2 separate regions of the Homo sapiens genome follow, and region 2 is reported to be linked to region 1. Evidence: microRNA targets listed by miRTarBase, many of them from high-throughput screens and not tested one by one. Region 1 holds a microRNA gene; the other region holds the end of a gene's coding sequence.

Evidence for each region. Region 1 holds the annotated microRNA hsa-miR-4297 (UGCCUUCCUGUCUGUG, at 1,514-1,529, opposite strand). A microRNA usually pairs through its seed, bases 2 to 8, with sites in the 3' UTR of a target mRNA and lowers its output. Matches are read on the target gene's strand: a 7mer-m8 pairs with bases 2 to 8, a 7mer-A1 pairs with bases 2 to 7 and ends in A, and an 8mer does both.
Region 2: the mRNA of PITPNM3 is a reported target of hsa-miR-4297. Seed matches in the 3' UTR shown: 7mer-A1 at 2,816-2,822, 8mer at 3,023-3,030 and 8mer at 3,057-3,064.

The regions. Positions count from the first base shown.
Region 1 is chr10:129,841,836-129,845,229 of GRCh38, forward strand. It overlaps MIR4297 (microRNA 4297), which reads right to left and starts at 1,539; the gene lies at 1,464-1,539. EBF3 (EBF transcription factor 3) reads right to left here. Exons shown (of 17, transcript NM_001375380.1): 12 at 1,302-1,367; 13 at 281-458.
Region 2 is chr17:6,452,693-6,456,086 of GRCh38, reverse strand. It overlaps PITPNM3 (PITPNM family member 3), which reads left to right. Exons shown (of 20, transcript NM_031220.4): 20 at 444-3,394. The coding sequence ends at 749. Among named protein-coding and RNA genes, the nearest start is that of PIMREG, 9.9 kb to the right of the region's middle. RefSeq lists silencers at 719-848, 869-998 and an enhancer at 1,568-2,286.

The DNA.
Region 1 (3,394 bases):
GAACACATTGAGGGAAACTTCTAGCAAATACCAGTGACCCGCATGGCATCCATTGGAGCTGCCGTTTTTAGTAACTGGGCTCTCTGAGTGTTCTTACCCCAGCACTGGCTGGGAGGACCTGCAGCAAGGTCTTCCTGAGCAAAGGAACCAGCAGAGCCAGAGAGAACAGAACGCTACGGACATTCCCCAGCTGGCCCTGGACACGTGCCTCTTCAGCTAAGGCCTCAACCAACCCTCGGAGGGCGTTCAGGGCAGGGGTCCTCCCAGCATGCTGGCATACCTTGGTCGTTGGCTTGTGACGTCTCTGACACGTTGACGGCTAGCTGGCTGCTGAAGGAGTTGACGCCCATCATGCCCGTGTGTGCAGGGTTGTTGCCCAGGGTGGGGATCTGGTTGTGATTGCGGGGAACGCTGTACAGCGCCTCGGCGATGTCCGCCGCTCGCTTCAAGATGATCTCCTGCAGCAGGAGCAAGTGGGAGCCGGCCTGTCACCCCAGGCCCGGCCCAGCTGGCCGCACTCTCGGGGGCCCACCATGGTGGCATCCCACTGTCCCTTGCCCAGACCATGACCAAATCTATTTCTTAATGGGCAAAGAGCTTCCCCTAGAAAATCATTTACTGACGCTTTTGAAAGTGTGCAATATCTGGCTGGGCACGGTGGCTCACTCCTGTAATCCCAGCATTTTGGGAGGTCAAGGCAGGCGGATCATCTGAGGTCAGGAGTTCAAGACCAGCCTGGCCAACATGGCGAAATCCCATCTCTAATGAAAATACAAAAATTAGCCGGGTGTGTTGGCAAACGCCTGTAATCCCAGCTACTCGGGAGCCTGAGGCAGGAGAATCGCTTGAACCTGGGAGGTGGAGGTTGCAGTGAACCGACACTGCCCTACTGCACTCCAGCCTGGGTGACAGAGCAAGACCCTGTCTAAAAAAAAAAAAAAAAAAAGGGAGCAACATTTGCTGTGTTCTGTCCTGCATGCTGTGGGGCGCCCATCCAGCCCTCCCTGGTTCCCAGCGGCACCAACACCGTCCACCCGCCACTGCACACTGCAGATGGGTTTCAAGGCTGTGCACTCCCGCTGTGACAAGTTTTTTCTGCTTTTGGGTCCTGACACCAACTCATCATTTCTACGTGAACCTAGCGTGAGGGCAAGGATGGGAAGCCATTCTCACATCAGACTCCTGTGGAGTCGCTGGAAAAGCATGCTTATGTCCAGAAAGCCCACACTGGAGCCACGCCGGCTGCCCACGGGTTCTGGCATGGGGGGGAGGATGGGCGAGGGGAGCCGCCCTCCACCTACCTGGTTGTTGTGAGGCATTCCGTATAAGGCTTCCACCAGGTCCGCCGCCCGCTTCAGTAACACCTCCTAAAGGAAGAGCAGACAGGAGGTGATTCATGGGAGGAACCGGCCAGTTATCACTGCCCTTCAGTACCAGTTCCGTCTGCGGGTGTGGAGACCAGTCCCCACCCACAGCGACCCGTCCTGGCCCTGCCGTGCACTTCGAAGGCAGGCACAGACAGGAAGGCACGTGCGTGCTGACAACACTGTTTGTGGCCTTTACAAGGAGGCTGAATAAAAGCGTTTTCTGTGGCTCCTCCATCCGGTTGGGCTCACAGAGGTGCACGGACAAGCGGGAGGGCCGGCGGAGAACGAGCCCAATCCGTGCCTGAGGTTTAATGACGGAGTCTTATGGGTATTAAACAAATACACACATGGCGGAGATATGAAAGGCCCAGGCACCACATTTGCCTGTTAATTCCTAGCACTTTAGTGGTGAAGAACAATAAGTAATTTTCCATATCTTAATTAAACTGGCAGAGTCCTTAAAGACAACATCTCACCCCTAATTCACGCCCCAAATTTGCAAGTGAGTTCAGTGCTTATTCCTCTTTATTTTGAACAATAAAGTGAATTAACTTGGGTTAATCTAGTTCTTTCATAATGACATTAAGAAATTTTTCAATTAACCTCTTTGACTGCATGTTGTAAAGGACTTCATAAATGCCTTCACATTCCGAGAGTGTGCGCGCTGTGCCTGGGGGCTTGGATGCACCGAGTTTTGTCTTATCCACGTCTGCACGCCTACCTCCAGTTTACGATTGTGCGGATTAATCCAGAGTTTAGTTAATTTTAAATACAAATGGGGGCTTACGTTTTAACTTTCTCTACCTTGAGCTGTAATAAAACGGAGCTGAGCTTTTTAATAAGCCGAGGCCAGGCCCAAACCCCTCCCCAGCATGGAAGACGGGCAGAGAGTTTCTTTCCAACTCCATTCAGCCAGGACAGTGCTAGCACAGAGGTGAAGAGAAAAATTCCCTGGGTGGCTGGAGCACAGTGGCCTCCTGCGGACCCCAGGCCCGGTCTAGGAGAGCTCTGCGGTCTAGGAGAGCTCTGCTGGTCCACCTTTTAGGTGTGGAGGTGTGTCTACATCTGGGCACCTCTTGTTAACCTGAGACCCCAAAGGTGACTGGACAAAAAGTAAGGCAGGTGGCCTTCGCTCCTGGGCCTGTGGCTGTGGCCTTCCCAGAGAGCTCTGTGGTGCCTCACAGACACACCAGCTTATGATTTCTGCAGATTCACATAAGCAGATTTCAGCCTGAACCTCTTAATGCAAATACAGTGCAGTCGGCTGGTGGGAAGCAGGCCCGTAATGACTCCACTGTTAAATCTGTGTTACATCTGAGAAGGCAACGACTGCCTTCCAAGGACTCACTCGCCTCATTGTTTCCCCATCTCCCCCAACATGCCGACTCTGGACCCTTTATTTATCAAGATTAATCACTACGGGCATCACTTTTTGTGCGTGCCATACGTTCCCAGGAACAGCACTTAATCCAGAAAGTTCCCGGATGGGTGGCTCTGACAATGGGCATTTACCTCTGAAATTGGTGCCGACGCTTGATGTTGCATGCATCTAGTTTGCATACAAATAAAGAATTAGACTTGTCATGAAGCAGGTATAATCAATGAAAGGCCCAGCTGTCTTAATCAGGTTTCGTTAGCCTGAGCAGCTCTCTGTGAGCAAGATAAAGTGTTTTTCAGAGGTATTAATAATTACTCATAATCTCTCCTATCATATCGCAAGACTTTTTACATGCCTTTCAATTTTAAGCAACGATTAAAGCAATTAAGATTGCTGCATTTACAAGCTATTTTTCATTCCCAGAAAATATCCTACACCTACTTGTCCATATGGTACTTTGCAATTGGAACATAAGGATAGTTTAGGAAAATTACGTATGCTCTTATCCTAATCTGCCTATTACTGGATAGTGTCTTAACTAATGAACCCGACTTTCTGAGCTGCTCTTAAGTGGTGGTCTTGTCATATCAGAGAGACACAAAACGGGTAACCCAATCAGTCAAGGATGCTTTGAACAAGTTTGTTTTGT
Region 2 (3,394 bases), not on the chromosome of region 1:
GGGCTACTGCACTCCAGCCTGGGCGACACAGCGAGACCCTTTCTCAAATAAATAAATTAATTAATTAAAATAAAATAGGAAAGAAAATCCAGAGAACTCTGGTGTGACCCATGGGTACAGGTAGAGATGCATGGTTGTCCAAAGCAGGATGGGGACCCTGGAACAGTAAAGAGCTCCCGACTTCCCCAGGGTTCCTTGGAGAAGCTGGAGGTGCCTCCGTAGAGTGTTCCCGGGAAATGATGGGGACAGGATCAGGATAAGGGGCCTGCCCCACCCCTCCGCCTGATGCCTGTCCCTTCCCCTCCCCTCCTCTCCCTTCCCTTCTTCCGCTTCCCTTCTTCTCCCTCCCCTCCCCTCCCCTCCCCTCTTCCCCCTCCCCTCCCTTCTTCCCCCTGCGCTGCTGCCCTGCCCTGCCCTCCCCTGCCCTCCCCTGCCCTCCGCAGTTCCTGAGCGAGGGCTACGCCGCACACCTGGCCGCGCTGGAGGCCAGCCACCGCTCACGCCCAAAGAAGAACAACTCGCGCATGATCCTGCGCAAGGGCAGCTTCGGGCTGCACGCGCAGCCAGAGTTCCTGCGGAAGCGCAACCACCTGCGCAGAACCATGTCAGTGCAGCAGCCCGACCCGCCCGCCGCCAACCCCAAGCCCGAGCGGGCCCAGAGCCAGCCCGAGTCGGACAAAGACCACGAGCGGCCGCTGCCGGCGCTCAGCTGGGCGCGTGGGCCCCCCAAGTTCGAGTCGGTGCCCTGAGGGGTGGGCTGTGCTCAGAGCAGGGAGCGGGGGGCCCAATCAGGCTGCCTGCGGGGACGGGAGGGGGCTGCCCTCTCCCCGACACAGGCGTTTTCCTGCTTTTTCCCTCCCGTGTCTGTCCAGCAGTGTCCGACCAGAGCGGGGAGGGATCCTGCCCGAGCCCGGGGGGCTCCCTGAGCTGCGACGGGGTGAGGTCCGGGGATCTCGGTGCAGCCACTGCTGCCTCCCACGGGCCTGCGACCGCAAGCCCAAGTCAGGGTTCATGTTTGTGTCATCCTGGGGGCAGGCTTGCCCGGGGCTGAAGCGTTTGGGCAAAGTCGACCACCCTCCTGCGTCCCCAGGCTTCACAGCGAGCTAGGCAGGCCCTCAAGGGGGCAGCCCCAGCCTCGGCACCAAGCGCCGCTGGCAGGCACAGCCTCTGGGCTGTCTTGTGGAGGTGTGAGTGGCATTTGTGCCCGCCCTTCCTGTGGTTTGGGTCACCATTTTGGGGTTGGCGCTCTTATGGCAAGATGGCCACTTTCTGGGAGTGAGAGCACATCCCCGGGCTCATGTTACGCCGTCTCTGTCCACAGCCCTCGGGGGTGGGGTCTGGTGCTGACGGTCTGTCCTGCAGCTGTCCATTGTCCCCAACCCCCGTTGTCCTCAGTGTCCTCACCATTTCCCTGTGGCCCTGGAGGCCAGGGCTTCCTCTTCCCGGAGCCCTGCCTCATGCCCTCCCTTGGGAGGCTGCAGCCTTGGGCTCTGGCTCAGCTGGGCTGGCTGTGAGCCCCTGAGCTGGTTGCTTGCCCTCTCTGGGCTCCGTCTTCCTTCTGTTATTGGAGGGGTCCCCCTAGCTGAGATTGGTGTGAGTCTTTGACTCCCAAGATGTCCTGCAGTTTGGCCCATTGAGGCTCTTCAGGCCTAAGGGTCCCTCCGAGTGTCCTGTGACCCACACCTTTCACACAGCCTGGGAGAGGGGGTCTGGGTGGGCTGGAAAGGAGGGGCTCTTAAAGGAGCCTCTCTGGGTGGGCTGGGAAGGGATCCCTACTCCACGGAGAGGTGCAGCTGGTTTGCCTTGCACTGCGTGTCCCAGGGACAACCCACTCAAACTGGGTGTCCTAGGGACAACCCACCTCCCTCTCCTGCCAAAAGGTTACTGATTGGGCTCCCCATAACCCCAGCTCTGCCAGGACCCTTTTATCCTTTTTGGCTCCCAGAGGCATAGAGCTGAGATTCCAGGGTTCTAGGGGTTCCTGGAAGTTTGGCTCCAACTGTTGTATTCTCTTCCCTTTCCCCTGCTGCTCAGTTTGTGCCCATAACCTCCTCCTGGGTAGTCCCCTGAGGTTGGCAGGACTTGGCCCTTCTGGGGCCCCTAAAGCCTGCTCAGGCCCTCCTGCTGCTGAACCTTGGCCTGGGCACTGCTTTCCTGCATCCTGGAAAACCCCGACTCCCTGGCCCAGGCCCACACCTGCTGTGTGGGGCTGCCCACGTGGCCACTGAGCCCCCATAGGCTGCCATCAAGGCCGGTCCCAGCAATTTCAGCCAGGCTGCCCCAGGGCCCAGACGTCTGTATACACAGCAGGCACCTGTGTCAGCTCAGTGTCGCTTCTGCTCAATGTCTACCTCTCGCGGCTCCCATGCAGCCAGTGACGCTGCTGGTGGGGGCGGCTGGCACCGCCGTTGTGAATTGCCTGGCAAATTGGGTGCCCTCCTGGGGCTGGAGGGGTCTGGGCTCCTAACCCCCATCCCTGCTCTCCCCACTAGAAATGTGTCTTCAGTCTGCCAGCTCTTCTGCTCTACTTCCAGTGCTGCATCCTGCACTCAAGCCCAGGGCTGCTGGCGAGTCTATGGGGAGGAGTGCGGATCAGGCTCAGCCTCAGCCTCAGCCTCAGCCTCCTCTATGGTCCTGTCTCCTGGCGGTTCACAGGTGCCCATCCCCCCTTTAACATTTCACAGTTCTTGGCTTTCCAAAGGCACCAGCTCATATGGCATAGCCACCCCAACCCTAATCCTTCCCCCAAATATCCTGATTTAAACTTGGGCAGACTTAGTCTGATTCTTGAAAACTCTACCATCTCCTTCTTGCAGAAGGCACTGGTTACACTAAAATGATAAAATAATTAGTATGGGGTACTTTGCTCCCAGTTACATTCCCTCTTCCCTGAGAACCCCAGGCTAGGCGAGAGAGGGAGAGGGAGAGAGAAAGAGAGAGAGGGAGAGAGAGAGAGAGAGAGGGAGAGAGAAAGAGAGAGAGAAAGAAAGGAAGACAGAGGAAAGAAAGGAAGACAGAGAGAGGAAGGCAGAGAGAGAGAGGGAGAAAGAAAGACAGGAAGGCAGAGAGAGAGAGAGAGAGAGAAAGGAAGACAGAGAGAGAGAGAGAGGAAGAGAGAGAGAGAGAGGAAGAGAGAGAGAGAGCTCATGAGCCAGGATCCCTGGGGAATTTGAAGTCAGTGTGACCAGGGTTCTGTGGCTCTGGGGTCAGAGCTGGGACACAGGACCCAGCAGGAGGGCCACCACCCCTTCCTTTTGGAAACAGCTCTGGTTCCAAGCAGCAATCAGGTAGGAGGATCGGGGCTTTGGCTGATGATGCACACACAAGATGCTGATGGTGTACGGTGAGATATTGTGAACGCAACAACTGGAGCTGTAGTTGGCGTGTGTGAGTG